Linked DNA regions of Homo sapiens. The protein of the gene in region 1 purifies or fractionates together with the protein of each later gene. This does not show direct contact. Each region holds a gene or a part of one and is shown on either strand. Other genes may lie near its edges. The genes, in order: ENO1, L1TD1, TPI1, PARK7, CAT, IVNS1ABP and RIPK2.

Region 1 (4,081 bases):
AAAGACACCAAATTGCTCATACAGCATGATGGGATCAGAGTTGATTTTCTTTGCATATTTTTTTATATCAAGCACATCATAGATAAAAATAATGCCTTGTTATTAATATATTAGTTTAAAATGGAATGCTGATTTTTGGCTGGGTGCAGTGGCTAACGCCTGTAATTCCAACACTTTAGGAGGACTTTAGGAGGCTGAGGTGGGCAGATCCCTTGAGGCCAGGAGTTTGAGACCAGCCTGGGCAACATGGCAAAGCCCATCTCTATAAAAAAAAAATATAAAAATTAGCCAGGCATGATGGTGCATGCCTATAGTCCCAGCTGAGTTTGGAGGATCATTTGAGCCCACGAGGTGGAGGTTGCAGTGAGCTGAGATCGTGACACTGCATTCCTGCCTTGGCAACAGAATGAGACTCTGTCTTAAAAAATAAAAATTAAAAAATTAAAAAGTAATACTGATTTTTATTGGATTACTTTGAGCCAGTTCTCAGTACGTCAGTTTTGTTACTTTATAGTCTCATCAAAAATTCATTTTGATCCATCATTAGACGCTTTGCTAAATGATTTCGGACTACCTGCAGAAATCATGCCTCCCATCAGAGGATGAAGATTTGCCATCTTTGCAGTTAGCCAAGAGTGAGCAGCAGAGCCTGCCTTTCAAGGGCTCAGCCTGCTTGAGTGAACAGTGAGCTTTGCTTATTTATTGCCTATGAAAGCCATGTTCCTGGGTAGCAGTGGTCTACATAGCACATACCTGACAGTTCTCTTGGGTGTAAAGTCACTTTGGGCTCCCTGGGTAGACTATTAACCTTTTGTTACAAAAGCATTGTCTGAGAGTGCCATCTCTGTTGCATTGTTGGGTGAATGCCTGATAACCATCAAAGCAAGCAGAAGGCAGTTTTTTGTCTCCCCACTGATTTTTGTCCTCCACTTTTTTTGCTTATAAAACAAACATCACAGAATTGATTTTGATATTACACAGTTCCAAAGTCAGATTCCATGGTAGGGGAGCAAAGGCTATGCAGATAAGAGTGGCCCCAACCCCTCATTCTCCCCTCTCCCTCGTAGAAACTGAACGTCACAGAACAAGAGAAGATTGACAAACTGATGATCGAGATGGATGGAACAGAAAATAAATGTGAGTGGCCTGAGGTGGCGTCTTTACTGGGGAAGATCATGAAGTCTCCTGAAGATTTTAAAACCTTTCAGGAAGAGGCCCATGATCTTAGTGATGAGCTACATGAGCCTGTGGTCTCTTCCCATTTCTTTGCTTTACTCTTAAGAAATCACACTTTTGGCCAGGTGCGGTGGCTCACGCCTGTAATCCCAACACTTTAGGAGGCTGAGGCAGGTGGATCACGAGGTCAGGAGATCGAGACCATCCTGGCCAACGTGGTGAAACCCCGTCTCCACTAAAAAATACAAAAAATTAGCCAGGCCTGGTGGTGGGCGCCTGTAGTCCCAGCAGGAGAATGGTCCCGGGCGGAGCTTGCAGTAAGCCAAGATCCTGCCGCTGCACTGCAGCCTGGGCAATAGAGTGAGACTCTGTCTCAAAAAAAAAGAAAAAAAAAAATTTTTTTTGAATATCAGGTGCAAAACCAGGTGACAATAGCCTGTCAGTTTGGTTACTCAGAAGAGCTTTGCTCCTTATAATGAATTCAGCAATTCCTACTGTTGGCTGGAGTTGGGCTCTGTCTTAGAGGGGAAAAGCAGTGGTGAGTCCACATAGAATGCTATTTGTATTTCTAGTAACAGTGAAATGGAGGTGTGATGGGGGAGGAGATGGTGCAGAATACAACCCTCAGGGCAGTACAGCAGGAGAAAAGCTGGTGAATCAGAAATGACTTCATTCCACTCGGTTCTCTTCTGTTCTAGCTAAGTTTGGTGCGAACGCCATTCTGGGGGTGTCCCTTGCCGTCTGCAAAGCTGGTGCCGTTGAGAAGGGGGTCCCCCTGTACCGCCACATCGCTGACTTGGCTGGCAACTCTGAAGTCATCCTGCCAGTCCCGGTGAGTGGTTTATTGGAACTTCCCAAGCAAGGAGTTGGGGGTTTCAGCTTGCTGTTGGGGACCCGAGACCTCCTATGCCTTGATATCCTAACACATGTGACTCTCCCAGCACAGCTCTGCCCCTTGTTAAGTGTGACCTTGAGCAGGTAACTCAACTTGCCTGTGCCCCAGGTCCTTTATCTGCAATGGAGGCTCGGGGAGGAAATGACAGCAGTACTTTCCTTGCTAGGCTGTGAGCATTACCTGACATAGTCACAAGTGTTTCTCCTGGTGATGATGAATTTGCAGTTATCAAAATAGACCTGGCGTGAACTGGTTGCAGTAGCGCACACCTGTAGTCCCAGCTAATCAAGAGGCTGAGGCAGGAGGATCACTTAAACCCAAGAGTTTGAGACCAGCCTCTAGGCAAGACCAGTATAGTGAAACCCTGTCTCTAAAAACATGAGTCAGAGACCTGGTGAGCATTTCACAGCACCCTGGCCCCTCTGGTGCTCCTCAAGAAGCAAGTCTTGGGCTCATCTGTGAGCTAGATTGGGATGGTAGGACCAGAGGGGCTTACTGCCCTGTGGGGCTCTCTGGACCCAGTGCCATGCTTCTCTGCTCTGCTCTCCCCAGGCGTTCAATGTCATCAATGGCGGTTCTCATGCTGGCAACAAGCTGGCCATGCAGGAGTTCATGATCCTCCCAGTCGGTGCAGCAAACTTCAGGGAAGCCATGCGCATTGGAGCAGAGGTTTACCACAACCTGAAGAATGTCATCAAGGAGAAATATGGGAAAGATGCCACCAATGTGGGGGATGAAGGCGGGTTTGCTCCCAACATCCTGGAGAATAAAGAAGGTAAAGGCGCTAGGGAACCGCCCCCCCACCCAGCCCTGCAGCGCCAGCTCCCTCTGTTGGGGGGTCGTCCACACCTGCCACTGTGGAAATCTATTCTTTCCACCTGTAGTTTGTAAAGATCAAGACCCTTCAAACGGTTTTAAGGAGGAAAAGGGGAGCTTCATTTTATTTTACTTATTTTTTTCTTTTTTTTTTTTTTTTTGAGATGGAGTCTCTGTCGCCCAGGCTGGAGTGCAGTGGCGCAATCTCGGCTCACTACAACTTCCGCCTCCTGGGCTCAAGTGATACCTACTAGTTTGGGGAGCCAAGTGTCTGTCCGTCTGTCCTGCTGGCAGGGCAGCTTAGCCATGGACAGCAGACCCTGAGCCTGAGCTCTCAACGGCACAGCCTGGCGGGAGGATCCTGCCATCCCGGGCTGCCTCCACTGGGCTTTCTCTTGGACCCCGCTTCTGCTCTATTTAAGGCCTGTGCCTTGGGACAGCTGATCTCAGCTGCTTACTGTAACTGTATCTTGGCCAGGACAGCTGTTCCTGGGCACTAAATTTGGGAGCATTTGTCAGTGAGAAGGGCTGCTTTCTTGGAAAGAGAGCTGAATTTCCCATTTTGTATGCACCAAGAACTCTGACCCATGGTTTCTTGCCCCAAAGCAGAAAAAAAGTAACTGATGTCAGAACTACTGGTTGGGGCCTGAACACCTGTTGATCTTTGTGTTACAGTCCCTGTGTAGCAGCTGTTGAAGGGAAGTTTTCTCTGTACCTACCTGTTTTCCAAACCTGTTGTCACCATCTCTTCCCAGGCCTGGAGCTGCTGAAGACTGCTATTGGGAAAGCTGGCTACACTGATAAGGTGGTCATCGGCATGGACGTAGCGGCCTCCGAGTTCTTCAGGTCTGGGAAGTATGACCTGGACTTCAAGTCTCCCGATGACCCCAGCAGGTACATCTCGCCTGACCAGCTGGCTGACCTGTACAAGTCCTTCATCAAGGACTACCCAGGTGAGTGTTCCCCGAGTGCCATCTCCCTTTCCTGCCACTGACCTGCAGCAGGGCAGCTGGAGCATCTGGCTGGCTGGTGATGGCTGCAAGGAGGGGATGGGGAGGGAGTGTCTGAACTTCCAGCTCCCGTAGGGGATTCACCACTGGGTTTGCCCCCAGTTGTGCATACACAGGGCTTCACAGAGGTTCTTGTGTAGCTAAGGAGCTCGGGTGCCAGCAGCGACATTGCATAATAAGTTGT
Region 2 (4,081 bases), about 53 Mb from region 1:
GTGGTGCACGCTTGTAGTCCCAGCTACTCGGGAGGCTGAGGCAGGAGAATCACTTGAACCTGGGAAGCGGGGGTTGCAGTGAGCTGAGATTGTGCCACCTGCACTTCAGCCTGGGCGACAGTGAGACTCTGTCTCAAAAACAGAAGAAAACAAAACAAAACAAAACAAAACCCTGTAAATTACTTGAATGCCCACTGCTGAGGGAATTACTTATTGAACCAAAATATGTTCAAAATATGGCATGTCACACATAGAAGAGTGAGGTGTGCATATATAACTGGAAGATTACAAATGGCCTATTGAAAAAAAGAAAATAGTGTTAAAAGTATAAAGCTATTAAAAAAAAGTAAATGTCCCCATACCCAAGGAGAGAGACGTACTAACTAGAAGTCGAAGTTGGCATTCTCCTTTATTGTCCTCCCATGCACCCATAAAAACCAGGCACTTTATCTTGGTATGGTAGCATGCCTGTAATACCAGCTCCTCAGGAGACTGAGGTGAGAGGATCACTTGGTCCCTGGAGTTTGTGACCAGCGAACAGTGATCACACCACTGCTTGCCACGCTGGGCGAGAGTGAGATCTCAAAAAAAAAAGCAAAAACACAAAAGTCACCTGTACGTTGTGAGAGATACCACACCAAACTTTGGGTGGCCTCAGAGGTCAGATAATAGAGACTGAGGTGAGGGACTAGTAATTGTTCTTATTTAAAAAAAAAAAAAAGAAGAAAAGAGAAGTCCATAATCCCCCCAGCAAATTCAGAAAAACACACACACCGACCCCCCGCCGCCGCCCCACCCCGCCGATAAGAACAGGCTGCCAGTGTTGAAAAGGTAATACACCACAAAGGAAATGCAAGCAGATAAACATATGAAAAGATGGCAGTCACAAGCCAAGGCAATGCAAATCAACAAGCTTTTTTCCATCCCTAAAATTAAAGGAAGTTTATCCGCCCTCCCAACCCCCAGTCCCTTGAGGGAAGTGCTAAACATTTCTTGCCCTTTCCAACCGGTGCTCTCCTGTATTGTATACTTTTAAAGTAACCTCCTTAAAATACAAAGCAGAACTTGGGAGTACACTGGTGAAAATCTCCGGTCTCCCTAATCACTTTTTTTTTTTTGGCAGGGTCTTGCTCTGTCACCCAGGCTGGAATGCAGTGATGCAATCATAGCTTAGAGTAACCTTGAACTCCTGGGCTCAAATAATCTGACCGCCTCAGCCTCCCAAGTAGCTGGGACTGCAGGCAGAAGCCAGGACGTCTGGTCCCTGAGCCCTTTTGATGGCTACCATCCAACCCTGAGACAAAATTTGCTAAACTTGTACCAGCCTCTGCTTTCTTCTTGATCAGGGATTTTGAACCCAGAGTGCCTGGGTAGTGTCTGGCTAGAATTCAGAGTATCTGATATCTTGGATGTGAAAAAGGTCACATATATTTATTGTCATTAAACGCTAATCATAATTTAGCATTTAGCATTTGAGGCTGGGAGCAGTGGCTCATGTTTGTAATCTCAGCACTTTGGGAGGCTGAGGCAGGTGGATCACCTGAGGTCAGGAGTTTGAAACCAGCCTGGCCAACATGGTGAAACCCCGTCTCTACTAAAAATACAAAAATTAGCCGGGCATGGTGGCGTGTGCCTGTTGTCCCAGCAACTCAGGAGGCTGAGGCGGGAGAATCGCTTGAACCCAGGAGGCAGAGTTTGCAGTGAGCCAAGATTGTGCCACTGCACTCCAGCCTAATCCACAGAGTGAGACTCTTGTATCAAAAAAAAAAAAAAATCAGCATTTGATACAGTTAACAACAAATAATAAATCCCACCGTGCCCGGCTGTAATTTTCAGTTTTAAGCCAGGCATGGTGGTGCGTGCTTGTATTCCCAGCTACTCAGGAGGCTGAGACAGGAGTTTGAGTGTAGCCTCGGCAACATCGCAAGACCCTGTCTCTTTTAAAAAAAATAACTTAATTTCGAGTTTCTCATTGCACCTGTCATGTACTATAGAGTGACTCTTGGAAAACACATTACCCAAAAAAGGTAGTGTTAGATAATAGGGCACTGGCCAGATTAATTACTGAAAAGGTCAAAAAATCCCCAGGGTCACTATGAATGTGGCCAGGGTGGATATTTGCCCCTGCACTGGCTGTAATCAGGGTGTTCAAACACTGGAATGTGTTTTGATTTGCATTCTCCTGACTAATATAATCTTTTTGTGTTTACTGTACATATGGTTTTTGTATATGTGTTTACAAAATTGGATTGTACTCTATATTTTCTGCACCATTTTTTCCCTCTAGTATACCAAAGACATCCTTAACCAATGGGTATGATTCTAATATACTCTTATTATGTATGGTATAATTTTTATATGTACGTTGAACATATTGTATGCACCATATAGAGTATATATATCATAACATGGTGTATATATATATAACAATGTATATTATGGTTATGATTATTTGAGACGGAGTTTCACTCTTGTTGCCCAGGTTGGAGTGCAATGGCGTGGTCTCAGCTCACTGCAACCTCCGCCTCCCGCATTCAAGCAATTGTCTTGCCTCAACCTCCCGAGTAGCTGGTGGAGCCCGCCACCACGCCTGGCTAATTTTTGTATTTTTAGTAGAGACGGGGTTTCACCATGTTGGCCAGGCTGGTCTTGAACACCTGACCTCAGATGATCCGCCTGCCTTGGCCTTCCAAAGTGCAGGAATTACAGGCGTGAGCCACTGTGCCTGGCCATAATGTATATTATAATGTATATTTTATAAATTAATGTATTTATGTACTTATATATAGTTATATCTATTCTATATAATCCCATCGTGTGCATAAATCATCATTTGTTCCACCCTTCTCTTATTAAAGGACATTGTTTTCTAGTATTTTTTGGCCAGAAAAAACTCAGTACTAAAATTTCTATTCATGTATTCCTAAGTGTACAGGTGGTTTCATTCCTAATGGTAGATTCTCAAGGGGAGAGTATATGTATTATTTCTGACTTTAATAATAGGCTTTTCGTTTCCTGAAATGTTTAATAACTATTCCTACTTCTGATGGGTAAAAGTGGTCTCATTGTTTTTTTATTATGTACTCAACTCCTGGGATTGGGCCACCTTTCACATGTTTACTATTGATTTACATTGTCTTTCCTAAAAATATTTTATTTAGTTTTAGTTTATTTGTTTTATTTTATTTTTATTTTTACTTTTTTTTTGAGATGGAGTCTTGCTCGCTCTGTTGCCCAGGCTGTAGTGCAGTGGCGTTAACCCTAATTCAACCTCTGTCTACCGAGGTCAAGTGATTCTCCTGTCTCAGCCTCTGGAATAGCTGGGATTACAGGTGCCCGCCATCATGCCCAGCTAATTTTTGTATTTTTAGTAGAGACAGGGTTTCACCATGTTGGCCAGGCTGGTCTGGAACTGCTGACCTCAGGTGATCTGCCCTCCTCAACTTCCCAAAGTGCTGGGATTACAGGCATAAGCCACTGCAACCGGCCTCAAGTACATTTATTGTAGCGTTTATTGGACACAATAAAGGCACAATTGTTATCAGAAAAATTTGTCCTTATGTGCCTGTAGAAGTTTACCCTTGTTTTCAGCTTTCTGTGTCATCTTGGCAAGTCAAGTAGAAGTCTATTTCACCAGGGAGAGCTCAGTGGTTTTCCTTAAGGATTTTCAGTTTAAAAAAAAATATTAGAAGCATTATCAGGCTAGACCCGGTGCCACTGCACTCCAACCTCGGCGAGTGAGACCCTGCTTAAAAAAAAAAAAAAAAAAAAATTAGCATATTCAAACATCAATAAAAGTAAGAACTCATCACCTAGATTCAAAAACAAATATTTTCCCCCATTTGTTTAATCTCTCTTTTTTCTTTCTTAGTTGTTTGCTGTGTTTTAAAGTAAATCCCAGACATCATGCCATTTCACCTGTAAAAACTTCAGTATGTAGCTCTTATAAAATAAGGAGACTTTCTTAACTAAATACAGTATTGTTACAGTTAATAAAATATATATTCCTCAATATTTAATAATCAGTCCATATTCAGTACTCCCTGCATTTTACAGTTGATTCATTCAAATAGAGATCCAA
Region 3 (4,772 bases), on another chromosome or scaffold:
AGGCACATGGTGGCTGGGCTGTGGATTTGGGGTATGGGCAGAGAGTGTGGAGAGCACTTCCAGGGGCCATGTCTGAGAGACTACATGATGCCACTTTGAATGCCCAGTTTGTTCATCCTTTTCTGTTTTCCCCACTTCCCCAGATGGGTGATCTACAATGACCAGAAAGTGTGTGCCTCCGAGAAGCCGCCCAAGGACCTGGGCTACATCTACTTCTACCAGAGAGTGGCCAGCTAAGAGCCTGCCTCACCCCTTACCAATGAGGGCAGGGGAAGACCACCTGGCATGAGGGAGAGGGGCTGAGGGATGGACTTCAGCCCCTCTGCTCTGTACCCTTTTTCCTTTTGTCCCCGGCAGCAGGGAAGAAGCTGGAGGCCGTGGGAGAATGGCTGGGCAGAGCAGAGGGGCAGCGATAGACTCTGGGGATGGAGCAGGACGGGGACGGGAGGGGCCGGCCACCTGTCTGTAAGGAGACTTTGTTGCTTCCCCTGCCCCCGGAATCCACAGTGCTCTGCTTCTCTGTGTCGCCCCGCCCAGCCCCCTGGTGTGGAGGGAGGGGTCTCGTTTGTGCGCGTGGGTGTAGCTTTGTGCATCCTCTCCCAGTGGAGCGATCACCTGTGCCTCCCCTCCCCCTTTGTTTGCCCCTGTGTGGTTGGTCAAGGAGGGATGTGAGGGAAATAGGGACCCCCCGACTTGCCCTCCTGCCTCAGTCTTTCCCCCACCCTGTCTCTTCCTTGTCCTTCTCTGGAAAATGCCAAAATACACGATGTGAATAAAAGTACAACGGCTAAATTGTGTCCTGTTTGATACCTTGGGGGAGAGGCTTACCTTCCTGGGGTTAGCAGGAGGGCGCTTAAGAAAACTCCTAACTCTGGCCGCCTCCCTGCCAAAGTCAAGTCTCCACTTTTCACTGGTTCTAGAGCTCTAGGAAAATTGGGGTTGGGTGGGGAGGTGGAGTAGAGTGACTAAATGCCGACACAAAGCCAAGGAAAGATGGAGTGAAGAACCCTTCCCTCTCTTTATTCACACAGGAGTGGAGGATTTCCCAAATGTCCCTAACTGGCTAGCTGGCTTCAGGCTGGGACTCAGTCCCTGCAGTTCCTGCCAGGCCTTGCCAGCCGGGGCGAGGGTTGGGATGATCCTGGCGGCCTATGCCTGTGTGGGCTGCCCCTCCCGCTGTGAACCCTGCATTTGTCCCGCAAGTTTTCACTCAGGTAGACTCCCTGGGTACAAGGGTGCCTGCTCAGCAGTCGGGCATGAGCTGCTCCGATGGGCGAAGGAGGTTGTCTATCCCACAGTTGGAGAGGGGCCCTCTCTGCCCCAGTGGGCGATCTGGGCTACGGCCAAGTTGCCACCAGCTAGTTCCGCTTGAAAACCACTTCTGGCCCCGTGGGGGACTCAAGTCGCCAAGCGAGGGTTCCCCTGAGCGCCGGAGCTCACAGGTCTCGCCTTGTCCCGAAAGCCCCGCAATCGAGGCGGAGGCGACCGAGCCCCCGACTCTCCTAGAACGTTGCCACAAGAAGGGGGAACGTCGGAACAGTGCATCATCGGGCGGCGGCCGGGGCGGCGGCAGGAGGGCGGGCGGGGGGCAGGGCTCCGGGGGACTGGGCGGGCCATGGCGGAGGACGGCGAGGAGGCGGAGTTCCACTTCGCGGCGCTCTATATAAGTGGGCAGTGGCCGCGACTGCGCGCAGACACTGACCTTCAGCGCCTCGGCTCCAGCGCCATGGCGCCCTCCAGGAAGTTCTTCGTTGGGGGAAACTGGAAGATGAACGGGCGGAAGCAGAGTCTGGGGGAGCTCATCGGCACTCTGAACGCGGCCAAGGTGCCGGCCGACACCGGTAAGCCCTCGCCGAGGAGGGGTCTGGCCGGGCCGGGGCCGGGGCCGGGGCAGGAGTGGCAGCGCCCTCTCCCGAGGCCCCGAGGCCCCGAGGCCGGTATCCGCGCGGACCTGATGCAGGGCTGTGGGACGAGGGCCGCTGGGGTCCGGGCAGGGGCCTCGCAGCCGCAGCCCCGTCGGTGCGTCGAGGGGGCAGGGCGGAGCACATGATGCCCCTTGGACTATGGGGCAGGTAAGGACGTTTTGGGTCTCCTGGAGGAAGGTGGCCCCGGGGCGCGCACTGGGGCTGTGCCCGCCAGGCGACGGGGTTAGGAGCGGAGCCCGAGGCTCTGCGGGAGACCGGGGGAGGCTGGGCCGCGTGGGCTTCCCGCTCCCTGCGCCCTGGCCTCCCGCGCCGTGCGCCGCCGCACGTAGCCCCAGACTCCTCCCCTTCCTCGCCGGCGTCCGCGTCCCCGCGCCGAGCTGCTCGGGCTCCCTGAGCCCCAGATCTGACCCCTTCCCTTCGGCAACCTGAACGACTCCCGCCTTCCACGGAAGGGACCGAGCCCGTGCCAAACAGGCTGAGCGATTTGGGAGTGAGGAGCCATCCTACCGCTTTCCCCAACCTGGAAACAGCAAAGCGCAAGGCCTCTGAGTCAGTTAGGTCTCTGCCACCCACGGGCAAAGGATGCTCTCCTCCATCCTCCTTCCTCCCTCCACCGAAATCGGAGAGCCGCGGGCCTGATCCAAAGAGGCATCCCCTTCTCGTTCATTCCCCAGAGGCCTCAATACAAACCCCAGGAGTTGGCCCCTCTCCTTTTGCTACAAATCCTTGCCTTGCAAAGGGGAGGTGAGGATGGGCTATTTTAGAAGGGAAGCAGGGTTGCTCCCTGGAGAATGCTGAGTCTGTGAGGTGCCTATGCCGAGAATAGCTCGAGGAAATTGGAGCCCCAGCTGTTAAAAGAGCAGAGGGCAGGGTGAGGGCCGTGGCCTCTCAGGGGTATCTGGAAGGCTCTTCGAGTTGAGTGCAGACCCAGCCTGGGCTGGAAAATGGACAAAGGTCATCTTGCTGGGGTGAAAAGGGGGAGAGCAGAACCAAGAAGAAGAGGGTGAGGGCTGGGGGGCTCCAGGGCACTGGTTAGGAATTGTGGGGAATGAAGGCTTTCTTTAGTCTCATCCCCCTGTGGTACCATCTTGTCCTCAGAGGTGGTTTGTGCTCCCCCTACTGCCTATATCGACTTCGCCCGGCAGAAGCTAGATCCCAAGATTGCTGTGGCTGCGCAGAACTGCTACAAAGTGACTAATGGGGCTTTTACTGGGGAGATCAGGTGAGATCGAGGTGGAGAGGGGTGTGTGGGACCCTTCCCTCACTTTCCTCGTTGAGGGGAAAGCCACAGGGTGGGCTCCCTGCTGAACCTTGGCTTCATCTCTTCCTTTAGCCCTGGCATGATCAAAGACTGCGGAGCCACGTGGGTGGTCCTGGGGCACTCAGAGAGAAGGCATGTCTTTGGGGAGTCAGATGAGGTTAGTAGCCAAGAGAGAAGATAAGGGATGTCTTTTTCCAAGAAGGATGTCTCACCAAGTCTGTTTCTCAACAGCTGATTGGGCAGAAAGTGGCCCATGCTCTGGCAGAGGGACTCGGAGTAATCGCCTGCATTGGGGAGAAGCTAGATGAAAGGGAAGCTGGCATCACTGAGAAGGTTGTTTTCGAGCAGACAAAGGTCATCGCAGGTATCTCTGGAGAAAGGGACCTTTGAGCCTATCCAGGGCCACAGAGACTCAGAGGGTAGGGTCAGGCCCTGGAGCCTGTCTTGGTCCCCATGCTGATCCAGAAAAGGAAAAAGGGGAGGGGGAGTGACAATCTTTGCTTGGGGCCTATGACTTCTCCAGCCCCAAGGTAGATGCCACCTGGAAATCCCCCAATGTCCACTAGGGGGCAGTAGGCCACCGTTCTTCGTACTCCGGAGAACCTGGCTGGAGAGCTCTTTCTTGTTCACCCTTCCCTCCATCTGTATCTCTGCCCTGCAGATAACGTGAAGGACTGGAGCAAGGTCGTCCTGGCCTATGAGCCTGTGTGGGCCATTGGTACTGGCAAGACTGCAACACCCCAACAGGTAACCGGGCCCAGGAGCCCTGCCCTCATCCCAGCCTGCCTCAATAGGTTTGGACAGACACAGCCCACATGGGGCAACCCCTTATTTCAAAGACACAGAGACCTTGAACCCAGAGACAGTGACTTGTCCAAGGGCATCCAGTCCAGGGCCTGGCTTGGATCAGAGCCCTGGTACTCTGACTCAGTCAGAAACCACACTAAGTGTCCACTGGTGCCAGTGATTTTTCCTCTTAGAGAGGCAGAAAAGGTCTTACTTAGGCCAGCTTCTTGTTCTAGGCCCAGGAAGTACACGAGAAGCTCCGAGGATGGCTGAAGTCCAACGTCTCTGATGCGGTGGCTCAGAGCACCCGTATCATTTATGGAGGTGAGTGGCTTTGGTTCCCGGCTGAGGTGGAGTGGGCTGAGGACTAGACTGAGCCCTCGGACATGGAGGTGGGGATGGGGCAGACTCATCCCATTCTTGACCAAGCCCTTGTTCTGCTCCCTTCCCAGGCTCTGTGACTGGGGCAACCTGCAAGGAGCTGGCCAGCCAGCCTGATGTGGATGGCTTCCTTGTGGGTGGTGCTTCCCTCAAGCCCGAATTCGTGGACATCATCAATGCCAAACAATGAGCCCCATCCATCTTCCCTACCCTTCCTGCCAAGCCAGGGACTAAGCAGCCCAGAAGCCCAGTAACTGCCCTTTCCCTGCATATGCTTCTGATGGTGTCATCTGCTCCTTCCTGTGGCCTCATCCAAACTGTATCTTCCTTTACTGTTTATATCTTCACCCTGTAATGGTTGGGACCAGGCCAATCCCTTCTCCACTTACTATAATGGTTGGAACTAAACGTCACCAAGG
Region 4 (4,081 bases), 900 kb from region 1:
CCTAGGAGGCAGAGGCTGCAGTGAGCTGAGGCTGCACCACCGCACTCTAGCCTGGGCAACAGAGCAAGACTCTGTCTAAAAAAACAAATAAAATTAATAGAGAAACAAATTTTAAGTAAAAGGCACAAAAAATTTTTCTTAACTTTATGAAAAATGTAACGGGGGGAGAATTTTAGTATCCCCCCCAAAAAATCCTAGAAATCAAATTAATTTCAAACTTCCTGAAATTACAAAACGGAAATTGTTTTAACAATACTTTAGGACTTTTTATTTATTTATTTATTTTTCTTTTCTTTTTTTTTTTTTTTTGAGACAGAGTCTTGCTCTGTCACCCAGGTTAGAGTGCAGTGATCTCAGCTCACTGCAACTTCCGTCTCCCGGATTCAAGCGATTCTCCTGCCTCAGCCTCCCAAGCAACTGGGATTACAGGTACCCACCACTGTGCCCGGCTAATCTGTGTATTTTTAGTAAAGATGGGGTTTCACCCTCTTGACCAGGCTGGTCTCAAACTCCTGACCTCGTGATACACCCATCTCGGCCTCCCAAAGTGCTGGGATTACAGGCGTGAACCACTGTGGCCGGCCAACAATACTTTAGTACTTTAAAAAGTGGTTAAAAAAAATCTAGTCATTAAACAAATTACAAAATAAAAATGTATTATGTATTTAGTGCAACCTATAAAATTTTTTTAGAGAGAAGCCCTCACCTCTGTCACCCAGGCTAGAGTGCAGTGATGCAATCGTGGCTCACTACAGCCTTGAACTCCTGGGCTCAAGCAACTCTCCCACTTCAGCCTCTGCAGGAGCTAGGACTACAGGCATGCACCACCACAGCCAGCTAATTTTTTTTATTTTTGTAGAGACAGGGTCTCGCTTCATTGCCCAGGCTAGTCTCAAAACTCCTGGGCTCAGGTAATCCTCCTGCCTCAGCCTCACAAAGTGCTAGGATTTCAGGTGTGAACCACTATGGCTGGCTTAGAATCACTTTTAAGACCATAAACATCCTACCGTTGATTCAAAACCAAGCAAAGCTCAAAACTCAAAAGAAAATGTGTAAAGTATAGAATTTATTTTACTCCTTTTAGAATCTGCACTGAAAAATAAAAACACACAAAAGGTAACCACTTCCTTAAAAAACTACAGTAAATGGAACTACCATATGGTCCAGCAATCCCACTACTTGGCATGTATCCAATGGAAAGGAAATCAGTATACTGAAGAGACACCTGCACTCCCTTGTTTACTACACCAACAGTCACACTAGCCAACATACGAAATCAACCTAGGTCCAACAACAGATGAATGCATAAAGAAAATGTGGCATTTATACACAATGGGATACTATCCAGCCATAAAAAAGAATGAAATCTTGTCATTTGTGGCTACAAGAATGGAACTAGAGAACATTATATTAAGTGAAAGAAGCCAGGAATAGCAAATTAAACACTCCATGTTCTCACTCATATGTGAAAGCTAAAAAAAAATTGATCACATAGAAGCATAATGTAGGACAGAGGATACTAGAGGCTGGGGAGGATAGGAGAAAGTGGGGATAGGGAGAGATTTGTTAAAAGATACAAAATTATAGCTAGATAGGAGGAATAGGTTCTGGTGTTCTATACCCCCGTAGAATGACTATAGTTAACAATCATATATAGTTTCAAATAGCAAGGAGGATATTGAACGTTCCCAACACAAAGAAATGTTTGAGATGATGGATATGCTAATTACTCTGATCCGATCACTATATATTATGCATGGAAACATCACAAATCCCATGAATATGTACACTTATTATCTGTCGATTGAAAATAAAGGTAACCACTGTTTTAAAATGCCCAGACATCATATGACAAAAACACAAACAGAGATGAAAAAAAGTATTATTATTATTTTTGAGACAGGGTCTCGCTCTGTCACCCAGGCTGAAGGGCAATGGCACAATCACAGTTCACTGCTGTCTCAAATTCCTGGGCTCAAGCAACCGTCTAGGCTCAAGTGATCCTCTTGCCTCAGCCTCTTAAGTAGCTAGAACTACAGGCATGCACCACCACACCTGGCTTTTACAAATTTTTAATTTAAAGAGAAACGGTCTCGCTATGTTGCCCAGGCTGGTCTCAAACTCCTGGTCCCAAGTGATCCTCCCACTTTGGCCTCCAAAAGTGCTGGGATTACAGGTGAGCCACTGCACTTGGCCTGGAATACTTACTTCTGCTTGTCATTTTTAATTTGTTTCAACAAATCACATGTAAATACCAACAGTCTAATTTTCTACAATCCAGTAATGAAAAATCTAAACTTATTAGAAAGGATTAAACTTTTTCCTATGTATCTGAGGACAGCTCGGCCCAGGGAACCGCACTCCAGGTTCCTCAGCAGTGTGCAACCAGCCATCTGTGAGCCGACTCTGCCTCCTTTCCTGCCATGACCCTGCTGTCAGAGGGTACAGTCCACACTCCTGTCACGCTGACCGCACGACGGAGTGTGCAAAAGCGCCTGTGGGGGAGCATGTTTCTGAGGAAAGGGATGCTAGCTTCCAAAAGTGTCCATCGTCCTTAAAGGTAAGAGCCATAATTCCAACGATACTGAAAAAACAACACAACTACAGTGGAACTCTGAAAGTATCTTTAGAAAAAATAATGGCCGGGCATGGCACATGCCTGTAGTCCGAGCTACGTGGGGGGTTGAGGTGGGAGGATTGCTTGAACCTGGGAGGTTGAGGCTGCAGTGAGCTGTGACTGCACCACTGGACTCCAGCCTAGGGGAGAGAGTGGGACCATTCCTCTAAACAAAAATAATAATAATAAAAAATGGAAAATGTGGCAGTTGATTTATGTCAGGTAAAAATGTGTAATAGGAGGCAAGGATGCCTGTGTAAGCCAGAAAAATACTGATGGGAAAACAATGCAGCCATCCATCTAAGCACCAACCCACCCATCTGGCCACACATCCAACCGGCCACCTACCCATCCAGCCACCCACTTACTAAGCACATTCTGTATCAAGCAATTGCCACATTCTACAGATACAGAATAGAAAGACAAAGTCCTCACCCTCTTAATCTGTCAGGGGAAGACATTCAAGCAAAATAATTTTCTAAAATGAGTCTGTGCTAACAACACTCTTAAGACATTTCAAGAAACAAAGAAGCCATATGAAGGAATAACTCCATGTATGGATTACAAACCTCTTTTTTTGCATCTTCAAGGCTGGCATCAGGACAAATGACCACATCACGGCTACACTGTACTGGGTCTTTTCCAGCCAGGCCTGCAACGGTGACCTTAATCTACGAGAAAGATGTTATCATATTTAAGAACACTGAAACATAAATTCAGAGTAACACTGTCTTTAAAAAAAAAGAAAAAAGAGAGATGGGGTCTCACCCTGTCACCTGGGCTAGAGGGCAGTGACACAATCATAGCTTACTGCAGCCTCCAGCTCCTGGGCTCAAATGATCCTCCTGCTTCAGCCTCCCAAGTAGCTGGGATTACAGACATGAGCCACCACACCCAGCTAGAGTAACGTTTACACAGCTGCCCTGTGTTTGAAAGTAACATGACAGGAAATACTGCACCACAACTATACCAAATTTAAGCTAATACACTGGCTAAATATATTTAATAACTAGGTCTACCCTGGTTTGCCCGGGACAGACCCTACTTATAGCTGCTGCCCTGTACTCTGTGGGACTGGAACACCCTTTCTCCCACAAATGTTCTGGTTTGGGTGACCAGTTATATGATCATCCTATTAATAACTCATCTTGCAAGTTTACTGTTGCCATTTAAACCTCATGGTATTTTTGTAAAATAGAAATGCAAGTCCAAACAACGAAATACTGCTTTATCTTTCAAAAATTTTTAAAGTCAACAATACCAAGAGCTGGCACTGGGAAAGTGGGAATTTTCCTACACTGCTGGTGGGACTACAAACTGGGACACTGGAGAGCAACTTGGCAAAACCTAGTCATGCTGACTACAGGCTATCCTTCGGCCTAGTCATTCTACTTTTAGATATATAACCTGGAAAAATTTCCTCACATTTGCACAAAGAAACCTACACAAGAATACGTATTACAG
Region 5 (4,081 bases), on another chromosome or scaffold:
TTGATTTGAGCTGTCATGAAATGGAATTAAAACATTACTTCATGATAAAAGGCAAGTAGTCCTTTAATTTTATTAATCTTTTGCCTACTTTTAAGTATATTTTGATTTTTCTGATTTGGAAAGTAACATGAGTGTAAAAATTCAAATAATAGAATACATAAAGGGAAAGATAGGACTGATTTTAAATATGAAATGTGTAGATGGGATTCCCTTGACATTTAAAAGTATTGGGATAATCAAGTAGAATTTCTTGTTGATAAATTCATTAGTATCAGATTTGAACAATAGAAGTATTGTTGTAAAGAAAGTTCATTCTTTGGGCAGTGTTACTCATAATCCTTCAATGAATTACTGATGAAATTTTGATAACTTTGACAATAAGTTTCCATTGGAGCTTCTTTCTTTCATTTTGTAGACTGACCAGGGCATCAAAAACCTTTCTGTTGAAGATGCGGCGAGACTTTCCCAGGAAGATCCTGACTATGGCATCCGGGATCTTTTTAACGCCATTGCCACAGGAAAGTACCCCTCCTGGACTTTTTACATCCAGGTCATGACATTTAATCAGGCAGAAACTTTTCCATTTAATCCATTCGATCTCACCAAGGTGAGTCAGTAAACAACTATATTGTTTTCTTTTTTAAGTCTCTTCTTACCTAATTAGAAAAAAAATCTAGTCAAACAATTATAATAATGGGGAAGTCATATACAAAATACAGAGGGTACCACTTCAGAGTGTCCTAAGCTGTGAATGAGTGCTTACCAGCATCTTACTTCCACGTTCCTGTTTGTCATTTCATTGAGTATGTGTATGTGGCTTCATATATTGTTATTAACAGGGAACAGATTATGAAAAGCTGATGTACTTTTTCCTGGGGAAACTGTCAGTATTTACCACTTACTATTGTGAAAGATTTAACTAAGGCACTCATCTTAAATTCTTATGTTTTATTGGATTTAAAAATTATTTTCATTGGCTTGATTGTATTTGAAATCTGGTATTTTTGTGGGTAGCTTTGATTTCCTTCAGTTGATTGCCTGGTAATTGTGAATATGACATCATTTTCAGGTTTGGCCTCACAAGGACTACCCTCTCATCCCAGTTGGTAAACTGGTCTTAAACCGGAATCCAGTTAATTACTTTGCTGAGGTTGAACAGATAGCCTTCGACCCAAGCAACATGCCACCTGGCATTGAGGCCAGTCCTGACAAAATGCTTCAGGTGAGCCTGGTGGATTGAGATGTTCTGAGGCAGGTGTCCATGTGAGCATGCACACACAAAATATGCAGCTTGGCATGATCTTTATGTGAGGAATTAACAAGAACATTACTTAAACTTTAATCTGGGTGCTTGGTTACCTTGTGGGATTCACTGAGGTGAACTATTCTTCAATGAGCATTCCTTGAGTAAACCAAGTATAAACAAAAGTCCATGGTAAGATCCCTACATATGTGAAGACAAGAATACTTACTCTCTTAATTAAAAAAAAAAGACATAATAGAAATACCTTAAGTATTGATAGAGTGAAGCATGGTTTGTTCTGTCTGTAGCTGAAGTATGGTTAATTAATTATAATACCTTGGTAAGCCTAACTTTATTTTCTTGTTCTTTTTTTTTTTTTTTTTTTTTTTTTTGTGACAGAGTCTTGCTCTGTCGCCCAGGCTGGAGTGCAGTGGCATGATCTCGGCTCACTGCAACCTCCGCCTCCCAGGTTCAAGCGATCCTCCTGCCTCAGCCTCTTGATTAGCTACAGGCGCCCGCCACCATGCCCAGCTAATTTTTGTATTTTTAGTAGAGACGGGGTTTCACCCTGTTGGCCAGGCTGGTCTCAAACTCCTGACCTCAAGTGATCTGCCTGCCTCCGCCTCCCAAAGTGCTGGATTATAGGCGTGAGCCACCGTGGCTGGCCTCATTTTCTGTTTCATGGTGATGCTTGAATTTTTCCATTTGTAAAAAGAGATCTAGGGATGATCTTTATGAACTACATGTATGCTGCCAGTGATAAAAGCAGTGGATTAACCATTCACCTTGCTAATGTTAAGCCATCAGTATGTTTTACATCACTTTTTAATATCTCTTTCAAGAGTACCAAGAGTGAAAAATTGTACTTTGGATCAGAATCAGTAAGAAAATAATTGGCTTAATAATTACTGTATAAATCAATCTTTTGTGGTTTTAGACTGTGACCTTGAAACAAAGGTTAAAGATTGTACCCTAAATCAGACCACAGCGACTGAAGGTTACTTCTTATGTAAGTATCTGATTCCAGTTCAGGTTTCAGTCTGCATGGAGGACAAGCTAAGATTCCGTTTTTAAAAAATAACTTTTTTGCTTATGACATTGGGGAACATCTGAGGCTTTTATAGAAAGTAAGTTTTTCATTAGTTTTTAGTCCAATTCAACTGTTACAAATTGAGTACCTGTCTGTTGTGTATGGTGGACTGTCTTGGGTGCCATAATGTAAGGCAGAATGCCATGGTGATCCAGAAAGCAAAATTTTGTCTGATAGGAGGTCAGCCACGAAGTTTCATGAACGAGGTAGCATTTGAGATTGTTTTGAAGAATAGATAGGATTTTGATTTTTAGTAGGTAAAATGCGGCAGGAGAAGGACATGAGTATAGGCACAAAGGTGGGACATGTTAGGTGTGTTGAAACTATAAACAGTCACTCTCTCCTGAATGAGAAGAATAGAGTTTGGGTAGGTTCATTGAGTATATGTCAGAGGGGACCTTAAATGCTTGAGTAGGAGTGAAAAGCTTTCTTCAGTTTTGAGAAGTGTGGTCTGGGATATATTGAGTAGAATCACTCCTCTTGGTGATAAATAGAAAAAGCGACAACTAGGGATTGGGAATAGCAAAAGGAAAGTCAGGCAGTTCTCAGAGGAAAAGCAGAAGTTTGCATTGAAACCAGGGAGTAGAGGAAGCCAAAACAAGGTAATCCTGGGCCCTAAAACTCCCTACCTGGTGGCTGAACTGTGAGAGGATGAGGCTAATGGGATTTGCCAAGGCATGAAATTGTCATGGGCAGAGCAGAGGCTGCATAACCCTGGTTACCCAGGGAGGGAACGGATTGAGGAATACAAGGTTACCTAAACTCTTTTCACAAGAATCCAAGTCACCATGGGTCTCTGGAACCACAGTGGGACCGTGAGGCAGTCAGCAGCACTGAGTCATATAATTTGAAGAACAATGAAGATTTGAATGGAGAACTAGGCCCCCGGGAAAAGGACTGCAAAGCAAATACGTATTCTCTACATTCCTAAGAAAGCAAATGTCTAAGGCAGCTATTCAAACAGTGGGGAAGAGAGTTCTGAAAAAGGATGACAAGTAGAAAGTAATATAATTTCTGTTAGTATTAATTTTAGTTCTGGCAAATATATCTATTTTAAATTCAGTGTACTCTTTATAGGTTGTTTTTTTTTTAAATGAGTTTTAGAAACTGTTCGAAAGAGCTTTCATAAGTTTGTCGAGTTATTGTTTCTAGCCTAGCTTTCCCCCATCCTTCTTAGGTCATTTAGCTATCAGTTCCAATACCATGGAGCCTGTGAGGAGCCATACAGTTGGGGAAGGACTGTTGTACTCATTTAGCCATTTGGTGACCATTAAGGAATGATTTGAGATTTTTTGAGTAGGTGAGTAGGGAATATGTAGATTGTCTTGTTGGACAGGAAGTGGAAAGCCAGTTAGGGGGGCTTTGGGGTTATTCCTGCTGAGAGCTCATGAGTATTGTAGCCTAGGCAGTGGCGGTTGATATATTAATGGGCAGTGTTTACAGGTGCCTTTTAACAAGGTCATGTTATTAAGTTTTATAACTTTATCCAAAGTGGTGAGCCACACCATGGTGAAATGGACAAATAATATAATACAAGTCATAGAGAGACTGTCCTGTCCCCTGAGTACCTGAGGACACAGGTGCAGCCTTTCTTGCTCTCATTCTCTGCATTTTGCCAAGAGTTGGAGAAGTTGGGCCGGTTGCTTGGGTGGGAAAGGCTTTCCCACTCACGCAGGTCCAGCAAGGGAGTTCAGGCACAGGGCCTTGGGGAAGGCCTAGATTCAAGCTGGTGTCAGGGTATGGCCTCA
Region 6 (2,759 bases), about 180 Mb from region 1:
GAGCCCCTATACAAAGATTTTCCAGTTTTAACAAATTTAAGACCCTCTCAAACTAACAGGCTTAGTGATGTAATTATGGTTAGTAGAGGTACACTTGTGAATAAAGAGGGTGGGTGGGTATAGATGTTGCTAACAGCAACACAAAGCTTTTGCATATTGCATACTATTAAACATGCTGTACATACTTTTTGGGTTTATTTGGAAAGGAATGCAAAGATGAAGGTCTGTTTTGTGTACTTTTAAGACTTTGGTTATTTTACTTTTTGGAAAAGAATAAACCAAGAATTGATTGGGCACATCATTTCAAGAAGTCCCCTCTCCTCCACATTTGTTTTGCCAATTTGCACATTAAATGACTCTTCCCTCAAATGTGTACTATGGGGTAAAAGGGGTAGGGTTTAAAGATGTAGACAGTTGGGTTTTTTAAGGGCCCTTTTTCAATAACTGGAACACTCTATAACAAAGGATACTTATTTAAATAGATGACATTGACTATTTTTGTTTTTATTAAAAGGAAGCTTACATGCCTACCAATATTTAATCTTTTATGATTGCCTTTTTATAACTTTTTATATTCTCAGCAGAGTGCTTTACCAATTGAAGTAAAATGTGGCAGGCTGGAGTTATTGAAGCAGAGTGGCAGTCTTCAGTTTGCAGAGTAGGGGTCTGTCTTTTAAACTCTGAGTGCAAACTTCAGAGTTCTTGCCTTGGCTGCAGTTTTTTTCCTTCAAGAATGCAGTACTAACATTTATTTGAGTGGAGTTACTGAACAGTAACATAGCTGTGATTTTTGGTATTTGAAACACTGGTTTTAAATATTTTGACTTGTTGAGGGTATGTTTTATATAGCAAGACATTATATAGCAGTAAAAAATGGTGTTTTATCTTCTATATAATTCCTGTTTTTATTATTAACAAAACAGTCCTAAATAGCAGCCCTCAATTGTGAAAAAATTTACTTTAAACTACATTAGGTTGTGAATGCAGGTTTTATCAGAACTATGTTTTTGTTCAGTTTATCTGTTCATATGGATAAATATTGGTTGGGATGACTTGGTGTCTAATGTGTAGTGCTACACACCTAACTTATGGGGCCAAAATAGCATGTCCTAATGCTTGCTGCTGATTTAAACACATTAAAGGTACTTTGCAGGAAATCCTTGCACCATGGGATTAATATCCAATTGCTGCTTGTACACTCATTCATTACTAAAAGTTTTGAGAAATTTTTTTTTCCAGTAATGAGCTTAAGAAATTTGTGGAAAATAACTCACCTGGCATCTTACATCTGAAATAAGGAATGATATAAGGTTTTTTTTTCTCACAGAAGATGAAGCACACAGGAACCTAATGGGCCAACTGGGATGAGGTGACTATTCTGAGATGACTATTCAGTGGCTAACTTGGGTTAGGAAGAAAATAATTAGGTATTTTCTCCAAATGTTCACTGGTACTCTGCCACTTTATTTCTCTCATCTGTTACACAAAGAACCACCAGGAAAGCAAATCAGTTTGGTTGGTAACTCTGTAATTCCTAACTATCACTGGTTTGGTTCTGGACTAAAACTACATTGACAGATTGAATTTGCCTAATATGATGACTGTTTTTAATATGGATCTGTATGTGTTCTATTCAGCACAAGGAAATAAAATTTTAGTTGAGGATTCAGCACTAAAATCCTTGAGATCACTTCTCATTTCATAAGTGACATGCTTAATGCAAATAATATATGGGAATACTTTGGGTCAAAGTTTTCCTGCATTACCTTGGATGCCAAAGAGGTAGTTTGGTGGCCAAAAAGTATCTTTTTTTAAGAAGCTGTTGTAGCTAGTCTGCATGAACATGAGAAGTTTCCATAAAGGAAAAAAAGCAGTGCTCAGTGGCCATTTGTTACTGTTAATCTGTATCTAAAAGGTACATACTTTCTTCAGAGAGGGAGAAAATGGCATAGCCTCAGCACAATTTAAAAAAAAAAAAAAGCTTTTTAACCAGTAGGAATTTTTGAATAGTTTCAAAATAATATTGATAATACCACACTTCTGGTCAACTTAATAAAACACTCTAAATTTCCTAAAAAGGTAGAAAAGCTATAAAATATCTAAACCAAATATTATTGGTTATACTCGGGTGGATCTTTTATTATGAACTTTAAATGTAGGGTTCTGATTTTTGGCTTCTAGTGTGTCATGTACTTTACCACTGCTCAACATGTTTTCAAATTCCCAATATAATAATCATATTTTAGGGAAAATCCAGGATTTGAGTATGTGATATATCATTAGAATCCTTGCTTAATTAACAAATTAGGTGTGTGCCCTATTACCTCTCCTGACCTCAGAATTCTTAAAATTGAAGTAGGCAAAGGAGGAGCCCCAGTAGGACATTTCTGTAACTGCATGCAGAGTTGCCTTCAGAAAAGTGAATATGATTCATGGAAAATTCAGTTGCTGTCGTAATTTACACGCAGCTGCTTTTTGTTCCAAAAAAAAAAGGTCTGAAGAGTCAGCAAGTGAGACATAAGATACAAGGTTAATTAACTAGGTGTAAAGGAGAAAGAAAAACACTCATATATGAATCCTTAAATCCTTGGTAAGACTGAGCTACAAGTTTCATCCTATAAACAGGTTTTATTAAGTTAAATCAGTGTCTCTAGGTTAAAAAGGAGTAATTGCTATGAATTGCAGATATCCTTCATAATAAAACTGCCAGTTTCTCAAGAATATTAATGACACTTTGAACAAGTAGAGTTTATAAACAG
Region 7 (4,081 bases), on another chromosome or scaffold:
GGGAGGAGAAATGTATTTATAGCTTCCTAAGGTAGAGATCATGTTCTACCCAACAATTCTTAAAGCTGGTTTGATTCTATAAAAATGGGCCAATAAATCTGCCAGTCATTCATTTTGTGAATTTTCCCTTTATGTTCAATTTCAATATTCTCTGTCAGGGAAAAATGAGGAAATATTATTCCTTCATTTGGGTAGGAATTCCCTCTGTACTCCTCGCTCTCCCTGTAACACAAGGTGTTAGTAGTAATAAATTCTATGTGTCCATTTTGAATGCATGGTTAATGTTGGGGTGTGGCAAAATTCTTATATCCTATTTAACCATTTATTCTAATTATAAACTCTATGCAGCTTAACCCTGTAATTGACATCTGAAGTTAAACTGTAGGCAAGATATTTCTACTACCAAAGAAGATAGTGCTGAGAGCAGAAAAAAGGCAGTAGAATAGAGCTCCATGAGACAATTTTTTTCTTGTTCTTTGTTCTTTGTGAAAAATAATATCATTTAATTAAAGGGCATAGCTTATCTGGGTGTCCAAGAATTAAATCATCCACAAAAAGTTAATCTTGCATGTAACGTTAAGCTTGTATTACAGTAATTTCCTAATTTTTTAACTTAAAGTTGATTTTGTTTCCAAACTACATGAGCATTTATCATCTTCATTGTATACAGTAATTCTTTGCTGCCTTATCACTTTGAAAAATGGTATCTTCAGTCAGCTTTTAAAAATAGTGCTATTTTAGTTTATTATGCAGAGTTCATTTAAAATATGTAACATGTATGTTCTTATGTTAAACAGCTATGCAGTTATCACATGGGAAGTGTTATCCAGAAAACAGCCTTTTGAAGGTAAGTATGGTTTGACTTTTTTATGCTCAATAACATCATGTTAGTAGGTCACTCTCAGAACTATCTAAAAATCATGTTATTTTAAATCTGCTTATTCATTTTGTGGAAAACACACTAAAACAACCATTTATCAGTTGTGAATGCATCACATACTGCAAAATATACCGGGTTAAGGATCCAGTTGTGAGTCTACTATATACTGGAAAATGTACTGGATTAAGGATCAGAAAAACCCAGATTTTAATTCTTGTTCTGACAGTAATTAGCTCTGTGATCAAGTCACAAATCTCTTGCGTCCTCATTTTTGTCGCCTGCATAATAAGAATTTTAAATTACTATTTCCAAGTTCTAGTCTAGCTGTAAAATTATTTATATGATAATTTAATTACTACCCCCTCTATAAAGACTAGCAAATATCGAAGACTAATCTGTCCTTTTTATTCCCTGAAAATATTGTTTATTTCTTTATTTTGAGGTTTGTGTAGGTCAGCTTGTTGTGTAACAAAAAACAACCTCGGAATCTCCGTAGCTTATGAAATAAACATTTATTTCTCATTCACATTAAATATTGGTTGCTGTAGCCCTTCTTAGTTCTGCAAGGTTTCGCTCAGCTCTGCTTTACAAATACTCTGTTGACCAAATCCAATCACATGGTCAAGCCCAAAATTAATGAGGTGAGGATATAAACTCATTCCATAGGAATCAGACAAGTCTGGCAATGGTTTGGGGTATATATATTCCTTTTACAGAAAGGGGGGTAAGGCATCATTCCTAAAATTTCAATATTCACTTATTTTCTTTTAGTTAGTTTTAGATGTAAGTAATATGCTTAATCATAATATATTACTAATGAATGCAATCTATTTGTTTTGACAGATGTCACCAATCCTTTGCAGATAATGTATAGTGTGTCACAAGGACATCGACCTGTTATTAATGAAGAAAGTTTGCCATATGATATACCTCACCGAGCACGTATGATCTCTCTAATAGAAAGTGGATGGGCACAAAATCCAGATGAAAGACCATCTTTCTTAAGTGAGTATATAGTTTTAACCTAGACTCTTTGAATTACAGAATTAGTTAATATACTGTGAATAAAATATTCCTTGAAAAATTGTGCAAATTAGATGACTAGCTAGAAGTTGTTTAAATTATTTTCTGTCTTATCATAGCATTTATATATGAGTAACTCCTTCTAGAGCAGAATTGAGAATTCCTAACAAAAAAGAGAAATCGTGTGATAGGAGTAACAATTTCTTTCATATATTTAACAAATATGTCTTAAACCCCTACCATGTGCTATGTATATACTGGAGTGAGCCCTGGGAACAGAGTAGTAAACAAGACAAACTTTCTGTAGCTAGTTCACATTCTAGTTGAGAAGGCAGAGTGAAAACAAATAAATAAGCAAGATACACAAATTGTGACAGTCTTATAAGGAAATAAGCAAGGTAATAGACTAATTAAGGGAGGGAAACAAAGGCCTTTTTTTAGGGGCAAACATTTGAGCTGACATTTGAAGCTTGAAAAAGAGCCAGTCATTCAAATGCTGAAGAAAGAGTATTCAGCCAAACAAAACAGCAAGCATAAAGGCTCTGAGCCTAGAAGAGGAAAAAGTTTTATATTCTCAAGAAACAGTGAGAAGGCCTGTGTGGCTGGAATACAGTGAGCAAGGAAAGGAATTAGATGATATTGGAGAGTTAAGAGAGAGGCTATTGGCCATCATAAAAAGGTTAGATTTTTATTCCAAGTGCAATGGAAAGCCATTAAAGTATCTTTTGCAGGGAAGTGACATGATCTGATAGAAGTTTAGGTGAAATTCTTACTGCTGTGTGGAAAGTTGATTGGAGAAAGACAAAAGTGGAAGCAAAGAGGCTAGAAAAGACACTTTCAGGAATATTCTAATTAAGGTGGAAATTCTGAAGACAGAAGAGTTACAGAATTAAGATAGTATTTCAGAGGTAGAATGGATCAGACATCCAAATGTAAATGTAGGAGAAAATCTTCATGACCTAGGGTTAGGCAGAATCTTTAAATATGACATCAAAAATAAATAGGATTCATTAAAAAATTTATAATCAGACTTTGCAAACATTGGAAACTTTTCCACTTCGAAAGGTACTATTGAGAAAAGAGAAAGCCAGGCATTTAGTGTCCACGACTTTAGTCCCAGGTACTTAGGAGGCTGAGGCAGGAGGATCACTTGAGCCCAGGAGTTTGAGGATGTGTAATAGTGCACTGTGATCGTGCCTATGAATAGCTACTGCACTCCAACCTGGGCAACATAGCAAGACCTCATTTCCAAGAAGGAAAAAAAAAAGCAGAGCCACAGACTGGGAGAAAATATTTGCATAACATGTATCTGCTAAAGGGCTTGATTCTAGAATATATAAAAAACCCTGACAAGTCAATAATAGGACATATAGCCCTATTTTTAAATGAGTAAAAGATTTGAATTTCACCAAGGGAGATATACAAATAGCTAAAAAGCACATAAAATGATGCTTAATATTATTAGTCATTTGGAAATGCAAATTAAAACTGCAATGAGTTACCACTTCATACCCACAAAATAGCTATAATTAAAGACAGAAAATAACAAGTGTTGACAGTGATGTGGCAGAACCAAAATCCGTATACATTGTTGGTGGGAATATAAAATGATGCTGCCACTTTGGAAAACGGTTTGGCAGTTTCTTAAAAATGAAAGATAAATTTACCATACAACCAAGCAATCCACTAACAGGTAAACCAAGAGAAATGAAAACATATGTTCACACAGTTGTATGTGATTAGTGATAGCAGCATTGTTTATAATAGCCAGCAAGTAGAAACGGTCATAATTACTGCTGCTACTACTACAACAATACATGAATCTGTTGTTCCAGGAAGAGTCCAGGATCCTAATATAAAATTGAACATCACTAACATATTGATAGTCTGGACTGGTTCATCTAAGAAGGGAATATACATAGCAAAGAGAGGACCCATAGTAAAGCTCTGAGGCATTCCAGCACTTAGAAATTGAGAAGAGGAAGAAGAAAAAGGATTAAGGAAGAGAAGACAGTAGAGAGTGTAGTCCTTGTGTCTTGGAAGTCAAGGAGGGGTATAGTCGGACATGTTTAATCTGCCAGGAGGCCAAATGAGATAAGCAGGATTTTCCAACATTGTCATCACCGGTAATCCAAACAAATGGAGTTTTAATAGAGAGATGTAAACAGAAGACTGATG

The links.
Region 2: the proteins of ENO1 (region 1) and L1TD1 purify together in Homo sapiens (co-immunoprecipitation; one large-scale study listed by IntAct). This does not show direct contact.
Region 3: the proteins of ENO1 (region 1) and TPI1 fractionate together in Homo sapiens (co-fractionation; 4 studies listed by BioGRID, with this or other methods). This does not show direct contact.
Region 4: the proteins of ENO1 (region 1) and PARK7 fractionate together in Homo sapiens (co-fractionation; 3 studies listed by BioGRID). This does not show direct contact.
Region 5: the proteins of ENO1 (region 1) and CAT fractionate together in Homo sapiens (co-fractionation; one large-scale study listed by BioGRID). This does not show direct contact.
Region 6: the proteins of ENO1 (region 1) and IVNS1ABP purify together in Homo sapiens (affinity purification with western blotting; 2 studies listed by BioGRID, with this or other methods). This does not show direct contact.
Region 7: the proteins of ENO1 (region 1) and RIPK2 purify together in Homo sapiens (tandem affinity purification; one large-scale study listed by IntAct). This does not show direct contact.

What each region holds. Positions count from the first base shown.
Region 1 is NC_000001.11:8,865,044-8,869,124, reverse strand, and holds part of ENO1 (alpha-enolase), read left to right. Parts: intron 1-1,067; coding exon 1,068-1,137; intron 1,138-1,874; coding exon 1,875-2,008; intron 2,009-2,534; exon of another isoform or gene 2,535-2,623; coding exon 2,624-2,846; intron 2,847-3,642; coding exon 3,643-3,840; intron 3,841-4,081. UniProt on the Homo sapiens protein: Glycolytic enzyme the catalyzes the conversion of 2-phosphoglycerate to phosphoenolpyruvate. In addition to glycolysis, involved in various processes such as growth control, hypoxia tolerance and allergic responses.
Region 2 is NC_000001.11:62,197,740-62,201,820, forward strand, and holds part of L1TD1 (LINE-1 type transposase domain-containing protein 1), read left to right. Parts: intron 1-4,081.
Region 3 is NC_000012.12:6,865,841-6,870,612, forward strand, and holds the start of TPI1 (triosephosphate isomerase), read left to right. Parts: upstream 1-1,726; coding exon 1,727-1,841; intron 1,842-2,264; exon of another isoform or gene 2,265-2,669; intron 2,670-3,023; coding exon 3,024-3,147; intron 3,148-3,258; coding exon 3,259-3,343; intron 3,344-3,417; coding exon 3,418-3,550; intron 3,551-3,847; coding exon 3,848-3,933; intron 3,934-4,208; coding exon 4,209-4,296; intron 4,297-4,424; coding exon 4,425-4,543; 3' UTR 4,544-4,772. Other genes in the region: USP5 (ubiquitin carboxyl-terminal hydrolase 5), read left to right, coding at 144-237. UniProt on the Homo sapiens protein: Triosephosphate isomerase is an extremely efficient metabolic enzyme that catalyzes the interconversion between dihydroxyacetone phosphate (DHAP) and D-glyceraldehyde-3-phosphate (G3P) in glycolysis and gluconeogenesis.
Region 4 is NC_000001.11:7,964,531-7,968,611, reverse strand, and holds part of PARK7 (Parkinson disease protein 7), read right to left. Parts: intron 3,289-4,081; coding exon 3,187-3,288; intron 1-3,186. UniProt on the Homo sapiens protein: Multifunctional protein with controversial molecular function which plays an important role in cell protection against oxidative stress and cell death acting as oxidative stress sensor and redox-sensitive chaperone and protease.
Region 5 is NC_000011.10:34,455,596-34,459,676, forward strand, and holds part of CAT (catalase), read left to right. Parts: intron 1-415; coding exon 416-607; intron 608-1,069; coding exon 1,070-1,222; intron 1,223-4,081. UniProt on the Homo sapiens protein: Catalyzes the degradation of hydrogen peroxide (H(2)O(2)) generated by peroxisomal oxidases to water and oxygen, thereby protecting cells from the toxic effects of hydrogen peroxide.
Region 6 is NC_000001.11:185,295,307-185,298,065, reverse strand, and holds the end of IVNS1ABP (influenza virus NS1A-binding protein), read left to right. Parts: coding exon 1-31; 3' UTR 32-1,678; downstream 1,679-2,759. UniProt on the Homo sapiens protein: Involved in many cell functions, including pre-mRNA splicing, the aryl hydrocarbon receptor (AHR) pathway, F-actin organization and protein ubiquitination.
Region 7 is NC_000008.11:89,770,944-89,775,024, forward strand, and holds part of RIPK2 (receptor-interacting serine/threonine-protein kinase 2), read left to right. Parts: intron 1-797; coding exon 798-847; intron 848-1,723; coding exon 1,724-1,885; intron 1,886-4,081.